Linked DNA regions of Homo sapiens. The protein of the gene in region 1 interacts with the protein of each later gene in a pairwise test. Each region holds a gene or a part of one and is shown on either strand. Other genes may lie near its edges.

The links.
Region 2: the proteins of RMC1 (region 1) and C11orf52 interact in binary tests that used the Homo sapiens proteins (3 or more experiments, as listed by UniProt).

What each region holds. Positions count from the first base shown.
Region 1 is NC_000018.10:23,506,404-23,513,572, forward strand, and holds part of RMC1 (regulator of MON1-CCZ1 complex), read left to right. Parts: exon of another isoform or gene 1-132; coding exon of another isoform or gene 133-239; intron 240-566; coding exon 567-651; intron 652-1,581; coding exon 1,582-1,638; intron 1,639-2,789; coding exon 2,790-2,876; intron 2,877-7,169. Other genes in the region: NPC1 (NPC intracellular cholesterol transporter 1), read right to left, coding at 133-239. UniProt on the Homo sapiens protein: Component of the CCZ1-MON1 RAB7A guanine exchange factor (GEF). Acts as a positive regulator of CCZ1-MON1A/B function necessary for endosomal/autophagic flux and efficient RAB7A localization.
Region 2 is NC_000011.10:111,921,901-111,927,528, forward strand, and holds the end of C11orf52 (uncharacterized protein C11orf52), read left to right. Parts: intron 1-1,802; exon of another isoform or gene 1,803-1,840; intron 1,841-2,425; coding exon 2,426-2,463; intron 2,464-3,752; coding exon 3,753-3,814; intron 3,815-4,059; coding exon 4,060-4,299; 3' UTR 4,300-4,971; downstream 4,972-5,628.

The DNA.
Region 1 (7,169 bases):
ATGTATTGGAATAGAGACGGGGTCTCACTGTGTTGCTGAGGCTGGTCTCGAATTCCTGTGATCCTCCTGCTTCATCCTCTCACAGTGCTGGGATTACAGGTGTAGGCCGCTGTGCCCAGCTGAGTTCACTTTTTAACATCTGTCTGAGGCGGTCATGAGACACTGTAGTGGAGCCATCTGGGTTGCATAATGAATGTGCTGTGAGATGCACAAGTAGATAGTTCTTTCCAGAAGCTTTGCTGTGAGAGAGAAACAGCAGTTACGGAGAAGGCTCCTGAGCGGGTCTATAGTTATTTATGTTGGAACAATTCTCAGGTGATATGTGTGTGTGATCTGAATTCTTCAATCACTTGTTACCCATAATACTGTAAGTTTCCCAGCAAGTTCTTTCCAGTTGGATTTGGTAGTTTGAAAAGAGGTCCTACTGATGGCTTCCGAAACATAATTTTAATTTTAGACTAGAATTTGCTGCCTCCTGAATATAGATTGTGTCTTTTGCCTTTTCAATAAATGGTAGTAGCTAGAATTCGGTTATTTAACTACTAACACAATCTTTCTTCTTAAAGAATGGATGACAAAGGAGAAGTGAAGTGCATTAAGTTTTCCTTAGAAAATAAGATATTGGCTGTTCAGAGGACCTCAAAGACTGTGGTAAGACTTATCTTTAAAATACAGCATTAAAGGGCATTAGAAATACATTTGGAAGAGAAGGAATCGCAAATTTTCAGTGTTAAAGGAAACTTTTATTATCTTACTGTTGTGAAAGGTATAGTTATGTTGCATTGTATTAGAGCCTTCAAAAACGAAAAAGACATTTGAGTGGGTTAAAAAAATGACCTTAGTTTGATTTTTAAATTAAATTAAAAATTTTTTTTTGAGCCAGTCTTCCTTTGTTGCCCAGGCTGGAGTGCAGTGATGTGATCTCGGCTCACTGCAGCCTCGATCTCTCAGGCTCAAGTGATTCTCTCGCCTCAGTCTCCCTTAAAAATTGTTAAAAAATAATTTGGAACTTCATGTGTCTTTTGTATTGCTTGATAGCAGCATAGAATATGTGAGGTATTTTTGGCTACTTTGTGAATTAGCCTTTTCATCTCTCATTTCTGAGTGCTAGATCTGATAGGAGCAGATATTCCAAGTTGAAGCAGCCTACAGGCACTTTAGCCCGTGTAAATGTTCACCATTGCCGTTTGTAGAGTAGAGGGAAGGCTGTTAGAAACAGGCAGAATCCTCTGTTAGTTTCTTCCATCAGTTTTAAGTGTTAAAGTCTTGGGGAAGCCTCTTAGTGCAGCAACACATTTCTCTGACATCAGCTGCTTGAGGAATGAATTTTTGAAAGGAGTTACTAAACTGTAACTGAATATTTGTATTAACTTAAAAAAAATTGAATCGTAAGCCTGCTGCTGTTGAGACAGATGATCCGAATTGGTCTTTTTATCTTTCCTGTGTTTTGGTTGTCTTCAGTTATTTTCTGGTCACTTTTTAAGTTAATATTTATTTTTCTTGTCTTGTAGTATGCCAACGTAGGTTGGCAGTATGCTGCCTAATCCAAATTTGTGTGTGTCTGTGTGTTTTTCCTTTCAGGATTTTTGTAATTTTATCCCTGATAATTCCCAGCTGGAATACACACAGGAGTGCAAGGTATGACCCCAGGCCCTTTCTCAGCTGCTGGTGTCAGTGGTGTTGAGCTGGGTTATGTAGTGGAGAGCGGGGCATTGGGGTCGCAGGGAGCACAGACTTGAAGTCAGACTGTCCCTCATGTTGATTCCCAAACTGGAGTCAGGCGGGGTGTTTGCTTTGTGACACTGAACAGTTTTCTAAGTTTGAAAGCTTGTTCCTTTGGAGGGGGAGGGTTCAATGGATGATGCGTGGTGAACACCCAGTAGTGCTAGCCCTTGGGGCTGTCGTCTGTCTTGCCCTTTTTCTCCTCACTGGGCTGACAGCACATCTGGGTCTGGGCCCTGGGATGCCTCACAGCCACCTGGAGTGGAGGTTTCTGGTGAGGAGTTTCTTTTTCTGTTTCCTGAAGTTTCCTTTCCTCAATTTGTTGTCTTTGTCTTGTCCTTACTCTTTCTTTCTTCTCCTAGGTGTTGATTCTAATCCACATTAATGAGATTTGCTGGGTGTAGTAAACTAGGCTAGAGGGAGCTGAGCTAAAATTGGCAGTGTGGCACCTTGGGCGCTGACAGAAGCTGCTAGTGGTTGGGGTAGGGCTTTCTGCATTTTTGTGACTGTTTTGCTCAATGGAGTTCAGGGCGGACTCTTTGGTGAGGAGAGGTGCATCCCCACCACTGTCCTGCCTGCCCTGCAGTGGCCCCGTGTGAAGAGACCCTCAGCCCGGCCCTTCTCAAACCTGTCTGCCCTCAAGCGAGTCGGGTGTGTGTCTCAGGGTCCTCAACCCATTTTAGTCAACACTCACTAAAGACCCTTAGGCCTTTGTACATTTTTAATAACCATTTTTATAACGTGGGTGACTAAGAATGTTGGCAGTATGGTGATTCCTGCAGGTAGAAGCTGCTGTCTGTGAGCTCTGGTCAGTTACTTTTCTACAAAACACAGACTTCTCCTGTTCTGTTTAGTAGAAGGAATTAGGATTCAGGTTCTTGAATGAAGAGTTATGGGCAAAAATCAGGGAACATTGTATTTAAAAGAAAATTTGTTTTGTTAATTAGTAAACATTCCGGGGAACGTTCATTAAAGAATGACAAACTGCAGAGTTTGTGAAGCTTTTGAAGAGAGTTATATGTGTTTTTTCTTATTAATTAAAAATATTTTTAAAAAATTTTTCTTAGACTAAGAATGCCAACATTCTAGGATTCTGCTGGACTAGTTCAACTGAAATTGTCTTCATAACAGATCAAGGAATCGAATTTTACCAGGTATTATGTTTATCATTTATGTTTGTTGGTTAAAGTTCAGTGATAGCATTCTGGCAGCCTTTTGAATTCAGTACTGAATATATATATATATATTTTAAACATTTTCTAGAGATGGAGTCTTGCTCTGTTGCCCAGGCTGCAGTGCAGTGGCACCATCATGGCTCACTGTAATCTCAAACTCCTGGGCTCAAGCAATCCTCCTGCCTCAGTCTCCTGAGTAGGTGGGACTACAGGCATGTACCACCATGCCTGGCTAATTTTTCTTTTTATTATTTTATTTTATTTTATTTTATTTTTGAGACGGAGTTTCGCTCTTGTTGCCCAGGCTGGTGGAGTGCAATGGCGCGATCTCGGCTCACCGCAACCTCCGCCTCCCAGGTTCAAGCGATTCTCCTGTCTCAGCCTCGTGAGTAGATGGGATTACAGGCATGCATCACCATGCCCGGGTAATTTTGTATTTTTAGTAGAGACGGGATTTCTCCATGTTGAGACTGGTCTCGAACTCCCGACCTCAGGTGATCCACCCGCCTCGGCCTCCCAAAGTGCTGGGATTACAGGCGTGAGCCACTGCGCCCGGCCCTGGCTAATTTTTAAACTTTTTTGTAGAGACGAAGTCTTGCTATGTTGCCCAGGCTGGTGTCAAACTCCTAACCTCAACTCCTGCCTTGGCCACTCAGCTTTAGTCTCTTGCTGGGGATTTTATTCTTTTTTTTTTTTTTTATAATTGCAAGTAATAAATTAAAAAAAAAAAAAAGAAAAGAAAAAGGGCTTGGTGGCCCATGCCTGTAATTCCAGCTCTTTGGAAGGCCAAGGTGGGTGGATGGCTTGAGTCCAGGAGTCTGAGACCAGCCAGGCCAACATGATGAAATCCCATCTCTATAAAAAATACAAAATGTTAGTCAGGCATGGTGGTGTGCGCCTGTAGTCCCAGCTACTTGGGAGGCTGAAGTGGGAGGATTGCTTGAGCCTGGGAGGCAGGAGGTTGCAGTGAGCCAAGATCACAGCACTGCACTCCAGCCTGGATGACAGTGAGACCCCATCTCAAAAAAAAAAACAAAAACACAACAACATTAAAAAGTGGGCAAAGGCCAGGTACAGTGGCTCACACCTGTAATCCCAGCACTTTGGGAGACCGAGGTGGGCAGATCACCTGAGGTCAGGAGTTCGAGACCAGCATGGCCAACATGACGAAACCCTGTCTCTATTAAAAATACAAAAATTAGCCAGGTTGGTGGCAGGCACCTGTAATCCCAGCTACTAGGGAGGCTGAGGCCAGGGAATTGCTTGAACCTGGAAGGCGGAGCTTGTAGTGAGCTGAGATGGTGCCACTGCACTCCAGCCTGGGCAACAGAGCGAGACTCCGTCTCAAAAAAAAAAAAGTGGGCAAAGGACATGAGCAGACACTTTTTAAAAGAAGACACACATGCGACCAACAAACATAAAAGAGCTCAACATCACTGATCATTAGAGAAATGCAAATCAAAACCACAATGAGAAACTATCTCACACTAGTCAGCATAGCCATTATAAAAAAGTCAAAGAATAACAGATACTGGCAAGGTTGTGGAGAAAAGGGAACCCTTATGCACTATTGCTGGGAGTGTAAATTAGTTCAACCTTTGTGGAAAACAGTATGGCGATTCCTCAGAGAGCTAAAAGCAGAACTACTGTTTGACCTAGCAGCCCCATTACTGGGTGTAATATGCAGAGGAATATAAATTATTCTACCATAAAGGCACATGCACGTGAATGTTCATTGCAGCACTGTTCACAATGGCAAAGACATGGAATCATCCTAAATGCCCATCAGTGACAGATTGGATAAAGAAAATGTGGTACATATATACCATGGAATACTATGCAGCCATAAAAATGAACAAGATCATGTCTTTTGTGGGAACATGGATGGAGCTGGAGGCCATCATCCTTAGCAAACTAACACAGGAACAGAAAACCAAATACCACATGATCTCACTTCTAAGTGGGAGCTAAATGTAAGTTATGAATGCAAAGAAGGAAACAACAGACACGGGGGGCTACTTGAGCAGGGGAGGGTGGGAGGAGGGAGAGGAGCAGAAAAGATAACTATTGGGTACTGGACTTAATACCTGGGTGATGAAATAATCTGTACCACAAACCCCGTGACATGAGTTTACGTATGTAACAAACCTTCACATCTATCCCTGAACCTAAAAGTTAAAACAAAAAACATTCAAACATTGCAAGATATGTAATATGGAAAGCAAATGTTCCCTATAATCCCGATAAATAATTATTATGAACAGTTTGGTGCATATTCCTCTATTTTTAAAAATAAATACAAACTTCTTTTTAACAAAAAGGGGAATGTTGTATATAAACTTTTGCAGCTAGCTTTTTTTTTTTTTGTCCAAAGTGTATCTTGGACATCTTTCTATATTTTATTCTGACTGGGTAGTATTCCACTGTATGGATGGACTGCAGTTTAAAAATTTTCTTGTTATTGGACATTGGCTGGTTTTCCATTTTTTTGTGATTACAAATAACCCTTCAGTAACATGCTTGTACACACTTCTTTATATTAGAGGGAGAGTTGCAGTATAGGTACGAACATCTGAAAAGCTGAACCAGTATCGCCAAATTTCTTCTAGACATGTGTATTTTCACTAGCAATATAGGAACTTCTGCTTTTCATACCTTTAGGAGGACTGGATATTATCAGTCTATAGACATTTGCCAACCTGAGAGGTAGAAAGACTTTTTTTTTTTTTTTTTTTTCTGAGACAGAGTCTCACTCCGTCGCCCAGGCTGGAGTGCAATGGTGCGATCTCGGCTCACGGCAACCTCCACCTCCTGGGTTCAAGCAATTCTCCTGCCTCAGCCTCCCAAGTAGCTGGGTCTACAGGCGCCCAGCACCACGCCTGGCTAATTTTTGTATTTTTAGAAGAGGTGGGGTTTCACCATGTTGGCCAGGCTGGTCTTGAACCCCTGGCCTCAAATAATCCACCTATCTCGGCCCCCTAAAGTGCTGGGATTACAGGCGTGAGCCACCATGCCTGGCCGAAAGACATTTTAATTTGCATTTTACATTACTAGGGAAGTAAGCATCTTTTCATTTGTATATTGTCCATTTGTATTTTGTTAACTTCCTCTTAAAATTTTTTTATTTTGTAATAATTATTTTGAGACAGGATCTCTGTCACCCAGGCTGGAGTACAGTGGCACAATCACGGCTCACTGCAGCCTCGACCTCCTAGCCTCACGTAGTCCTCCCACCTCAGCTTCCTGAGTAGCTGGAACTACAGGTGTGTGCCAGCACGCCCAACTTAATTTTTTTTTCCTTTTTTTTTTTTTGTAGAGATGAGGTCTTGCTGTGTTGCCTAGACTGGTCTTGAACTCCTAGGTTCAAGCCATTCTTCTGCCTTGGCCTCCCAGAGTGCTGGGATTTATGGGCATGAGCCACTGTGTGTGGTCAAAAATATTTTTTTTACTGTGGTAAAAAAACATACAACATTTATTATCTTAACTGTTTTTAAGTGTTCAGTTCAGTAGTGTTAAGTATATTCATTCACATTGTTATGAAATAGCTCCAGAACTTTTTTCATCTTGTGAAACCAAAACTATCCAGTAAACAACTCCCCTTATCCCTTCCCTGCAGCCCCAGCAATCTCTATTTTACTTTCTGTTTCTATGAATTTGACTCCTTTTTTTTTAAGATGGAGTCTTGCTCTGTTGCCCAGGCTGGAGTGCAGTGGCGTGATCTCAGCTCACTGCAACCTCTGTCTCCTGGGTTCAGGCGATTCTCCTGTCTCAGCTTCCTGAATAGCTGGGATTACAGGTGTGCGCCACCACGCCTGGCTAATTTTTGTATTTTTGGTAGAGATGGGATTTCACCATGTTGGCCAAGCTGGTCTTGAACTCCTGACTTCAGGTGATCCACTCACCTCAGCCTCCCAAAGTGCTGGGATTACAGGCGTGAGCCACTGTGTCCGGCCGAATTTGATTACCTTTTATACTTCATATAAGTGAAATTATACAGTATTTGTCCCTTTGTGACTGGCTTATTTCATCTACCATAATTTCCTACAGGTTCCCCCATGCCATAGCATGTGATAGGGTTTCCTTTTTAAGACTGATAATACCGCACTGAGCGTATACACCACATTTTGCTTATCCATTCATCTGTTGAGGGACATTTGGGTTGCTTCTGCCTCTTGGCCATTGTGAATAGTGCTGCTGTCAATACAGGTATGCAGATACCGCTTCAAGATCCCGTTTTCAGTTCTTTTAGATTTATACCCAGAGTGAGATTGC
Region 2 (5,628 bases), on another chromosome or scaffold:
TGGCTCGCTGCAACCTTAGCCTCCCAGGTGTAAGCGATTCTCATGCCTCAGTCTCCCTAGTAGCTGGCATTACAGGTGCGTGCCACCACGCCCAGCTAATTTTTGTATTTTTAGCAGAGACGGGGTTTCACCTGTTGGCCAGGCTGGTCTTGAACTCCTGACCTCAAATGATCCACTCACCTTGGCTTCCCAAAGTGTTGGCATTACAGGCGTGAGCCACCGCACCTGGCCTATCATACCTCATTTTATTAATAAGAAAACAGAAGCCCAGAGAAGTTAAAAATTTGCTGAAGTTCTCACAGCTATTCTGACCTCATCAGTCTGACTCTAGAGCCCATTCTAGAGACACTATACCAAATAGTCTAACCAAAATCTTTTTTTCCTCTTCAAATACTAGTAGGATTGAATAAAACTTTGTTCTCTATTTTTTGTTATCTCAATAAACCTCCAGAGGCTTAAAGATATTATGGCAATTGAAGATATTTTTATTTTAAAATATTCTTTATTGTTATTGTTTCTGATTACAAAGGTAATAATCATTCATTGCAGAAAATTTAACTTCTGCAACGAGCAGAAAATAAAAAGCACCATAAATAAAGCACCCAGAGATGATGGGAACATTTTAGTGTATTTCCATATATTTTTTAAATGTGCACAGTTTTTATTCCAAAACATACCTTTTTACTAACTTAATAAAAAGTAAAATTTTCCATGATGTTCGGTGTTCTTCCAACATTCTTTATGAAGTGGCTACATATTTTCCATTAATTGCATATGCCATTTCTTTAGTCAGTTACCAAATCATGGACCTTCAGAGTATTTCCTATTTTTTGCAATTTAAATAATGTTATAATGAATATCCATATTTGTACATGTATAATTATTTCTTAGGATATGGAATTGCTACATCAGAGGGTATACACATTTATGTTTAAGGATTTTTATACTTATTGCCAATTGCATTCTAGGAGGATTGCACAGATTTTTATTTCTATTACCACTGTAGAAGAATGCCCACTTAGTTTCCTTAAATCTAAAAATAAAATCCCATCGCCTGTGTATCTAAATGAATACTCACTCCATTTGGGTTGTGTCCAGGCATTGCACAATATCTAACTTGAGAACAGGCTCTGTTCACTAACACTGGATAGCCCTAGTCTATGTATTTTAGGACTAATATTTTCTGTATCCATTTAAATAAAAATAAGTAGGTAAAGAGTAGTAACAAGTGGCAAAGAATTAGAAGATTATCTCGTTCTTAGGATAAGGCTGACTGAGCAGCAGTAACATAAAGCAAGAGCTGAAGTGGCAGAAGAAGTAGAAAAACACAGGAGTAGTTTTTCTTCTGAACCACCTGTAGAGTTTGGCTGGAGACTCAACTGCTGTCAACTGAGCAAGCTGTAGCAAAACCAAAAATCACATCAAAACAGAAACCTCTGTCAAATATGTGTGGAAAAATCCTGACTTTTTCCCCACAGTAGTCCTCATGATTTAGAAGTCAGTCTTCTCTCTCTCGCCCTCTCAAATTAGCAAAGAAGGAAACCTCCCAGGAGATGAGAGATCAGGCAGACAAACAGGGTTGGTTCTGGCAAGAGTTGGAAATGTACTAGCAAGAAAGCAAGAAAAAGAATCCGGAGTAAGCCCCAAACTATTTAGCCTATTTCCTCAGTCAGTGTTGTCTCTCTGGCATCAAACAGTTAACAATCACGTAGACACACGGGCGCCATTGGGGACCCCAGGGGCTCAGAAATAAATATAAGAGGTCTGCCCTACAGTGAGGGCAGGATAGCTGAGTCACTCACCAAATTCAGTGCTCCCTGTTCTGTAGACAAAGTTCTCTAAAGGATGTTAAAGGTTAAACATCTCTCACTTTCTCTGTTAATTAAAAACAAGGACAAGGAAGCAGGGAGGGAGGTCACTTGTTAAGAAAGGGCCTTGAGGGGCTGTAATTAGTTAGCCCTGGTTGTGGCAACTTCCATGACTCCCAGAATAAAAGTCCCAGATTGGTAAAGACCCCAGGAAAAAAAAAAGCACTGAAGAAGAGGCAAGAGGGTCTCTGGATCCAAGAATATTCCATCATTTGACAGATTTCCCTCACCCTCTGCTGGGATTAGCCTGTTAGACAATCCCAGAATAGCTCTCAAGCCAGATACATCCCTGGCATGTAGTGCCTGGTTGCCTGAGGCTGTATTTTGGGTCTGGTTATGTCAGTTGTACTACTCCACCTTCCAGAACCATCCATGTGGGAGAGGTGTGGTACCCTTGACTAATGTTTTGGGACTGAACCTGGCTCAGGGTGAATCTTTGTTAGAGGGAGGTAGGGGAAGCTCATCAGAATGTTAAGGAGACCACAGAGCAAATGATGATGGAGGGAAGGCAGAGGCCAGGGCTCTTGCACATGGGTGATCTGTTTTTCCTATTACAGGAGCTGCCCATCAACTTTCCAGAAGAAAAAGAAAACAGGTAACTTTGGGGCTGGGGGAGGGAATCTGGGGGAGGCAAATTAGAGAAGACAATAGAACTCCAATCTTTGGAAAGGGCAGAAGGGTAGAAAAGGAATGAAAGGATAAAGGGAGACAGCACACCAAAGAGAATCCAGGTTGCTGCATTCAAGACTAGTTCTGAACCTCTGGATCTTATCCTTTCCATTATTTCAGAGTGGCAGGGTTGGTTGTTCATTCTTTCATTCATCTAGCAAATATTTACTCAGCACTTACATTCTACGTCAGGACCTGTGTGGGTCCCAAGGAGGCAGAGAGGCACAAGAGGAAAGACACATGATCTCAGCCCTGGAAGAGCTGAAAATCAAATTTAAGAGATAAATTCATATAAACAAACAGTTGTAATATCATCACTGGTGCTGTAATAGATGTGTACTCATGCTGTGGGAGAATTGAGAGAAGACACTGATGTCGAAATGTCAAAGAAATAATAGCAAAGGGCCAGGCGTAGTGCCTCACGTCTGTAATCCCAGCACTTTGGGAGGCCAAGGTGGGGCGGATCACTTGAGATCAGGAGTTTGGGACCAGCCTGGTCAACATGGTGAAACCCCATCTCTACTAAAAAGAGAAAAACTAGCTGGGCATAGTGGTATGCGCCTGTAGTACCAGCTACTTGGGAGGCCAAGGCACGAGAATTGCTTGAACCCAGGAGATGGAGGTTGCAGTGAGTCGAGATCGCGCCACTGCACTCCAGCCTAGGCAAGAGTGAGACTCTGTCTCTAAATAAATAAATAAAAGCAAAGTTCACAAGTCAGCAGAGGAGGGAGAAGGTGTTTTAGGCAGATAAATCAGCTCATGAAAAAAAAAAAAAGAGACTGACCTGATTCAAAGTGGCTGATTGGTATAGCTGAGCACTTCCCACCTTGCATTGTAAGTGTGTTTACTTATTTTTATTTATTTGTCTCCCCTAGCAGGCTGTAAGCCCCCTGAGGTAGAGGAAACAGCTTACTCATCCTTCTACCCCCAGAACATGGCACAGAGCCTGGCACACAATGGGTTCTCTTGTTGAACTTGTTAGGGGCTAGTGAAAAATGAGGATGGAAGATATTATGGCCAGATTGTGAAAGGGCCAGATTGTAAACCCTGCTAAGGAGTTTGGATTTAGCACTAGTAGACATGAAAGAAGTGAGAATGGAGGCAGGGGGATTAGACAGAAGCCTGCCGTTAATAGTTTAATAGTGATTTGAAGAAGGCAATCTCAGTAGAGACAGGGAAGAGAGAATAAACTTAAGTTGGATTTCTTCCCCTCAGGAAGCCAAACAAGACGGACACTGAAGCCGCAGCCACAACAGCTGCAGCAGAATCTCCCAAAGGTAATGACAGGTCTCTGTCCCCTCTCTGGGGCTGCTCGGACATGGGATCCCAGTAGTCAGCTCTTTTGCACTGCAACAGACACATTTCAGTCACCTGTAGAATTTGCTGGCTCTGTCTGTCCTCCTCTGTCTGTCCTTTGCTCAAAGGAGCAAAGCGAAGGGACATCAGTTGACCTGCCCCTGCATTGGAGGTGAGGGGCAAAACCAAGCCATGAATCTCCCTTAATGCTATCCATTCCTCGCAGGGCCATGAAACAACAGGACATACGTATGAACGGGTGTTACAGCAGCAAGGGTCTCAAGAGAGGAGTCCAGGCCTCATGTCGGAAGACAGCAACTTACATTATGCTGACATTCAAGTGTGCAGCCGTCCCCATGCCCGGGAAGTGAAACACGTGCATTTAGAAAACGCTACAGAGTATGCGACCCTTCGCTTCCCCCAGGCCACACCTCGCTATGACAGCAAGAACGGGACCCTGGTGTGAGCGCTTGGGAGGAAGGCCCAGTCCATCGTTAACCACTACACCTGTGGGGGAGAACCTACTGCTTTGGGGAATTGGGTGGCAACCCAGGGATGTTGTCCACGTTTTAAGCTTAAAGAACTCCAAAGCCCCTGGAATTGTGGGCGTCCCATTTTCTCCCCTGGCCTCTTACTTGCCACTGTTAGGTTGGAGTTAATAGTTGGTTTAGCTATGGGTGGATAGCTAAACTTAGCTATCCACATGAGGTTAGGTGGAGTGTGCAGGGAGGTAGGTCTTCGACCCCACCATTGTTGCTCCTGCTCTTGCAAAGTGCAGAAAGAGCAGGTAAAAAGTTAGCCCATAAGCACGTGGGCTGATCTTGTTGGACTTTAATTAATGGTATCCTTTTTCACACACCTTAAACTCCAAAGCTGAAGGGGAGGTGCTCCGGAAAAGCATTCTGAGCTTTTACATTCAGACACTAGGGCTGGCTTGGGCCATTTCCTCAGTGGCTGAGTCAGGTTCCAGACCTTAACAGACAAATGGGGGAAGGGGGCTGAGGCGTGGAGGAAACGCTTTCAGGACCTCAAGTCAGTGATAACCGACAGCACAGTGAGGCCTGGAAACTTCCCTCGGAGGGACTGTTGGCTCTCGCAGGTGCGGGGCCGCTAGGATCAATAAACGGCCTGAGAAACATGCCTGGCGCGTTTTCTGGGGCGGGGCCCCGAAGCTCCTTGCGAGGACAGCGGATCCCGCCCAGTTTTAAGGGCGGTTCGAAAGTCCAGCCAGTAGACAGGCCTTCCGGCCCCACCCCCAGGCCGCGGCTGGAGGCGGAGCTGGAGGGGGGTGGGGTTTAGGAGAAAGGGGGCGGGCTACCATTGGCAGAGGGCGCAGTTCCTGGGGCGGTGTGTCCATGCCGTGATTGGTTGTTTGTCGGATGCTCCTGGTGAGGCGGATCCGGAACGGCAGTTGGGGGGGATCTGGGTCCAGGGGGCGCGGTCTGGGCCTGCAGGAGGCGGGATCCGGCGGGCCAGAGGCGGGACCAAGGCCGGCAGGGGCTGGCTCTGGCTGGCTGGAGTCGGGCGGGGCTTGTGGCCGGCCCCCGCATCACCATGGCAGCGGGAAACCGCGGCAAAGCCAGAGCACTGGCAGGCCGAGCTCAGGAGGGCTGGGGACAGAGATGCTGAACCAGACGGACCCATCATTTAAGAGGTAGGTGCTGAAAGGTGGCGAGTAACAAAAATATTACCCAAGTTGATCATCCACATCGAAACTGGGGACACGCGGAGGTGGCGAGGATGAAGTGGGTTAGAGGAGGCTAAAATTTCAAAGACCAAACCGCCCTCAGCCTTG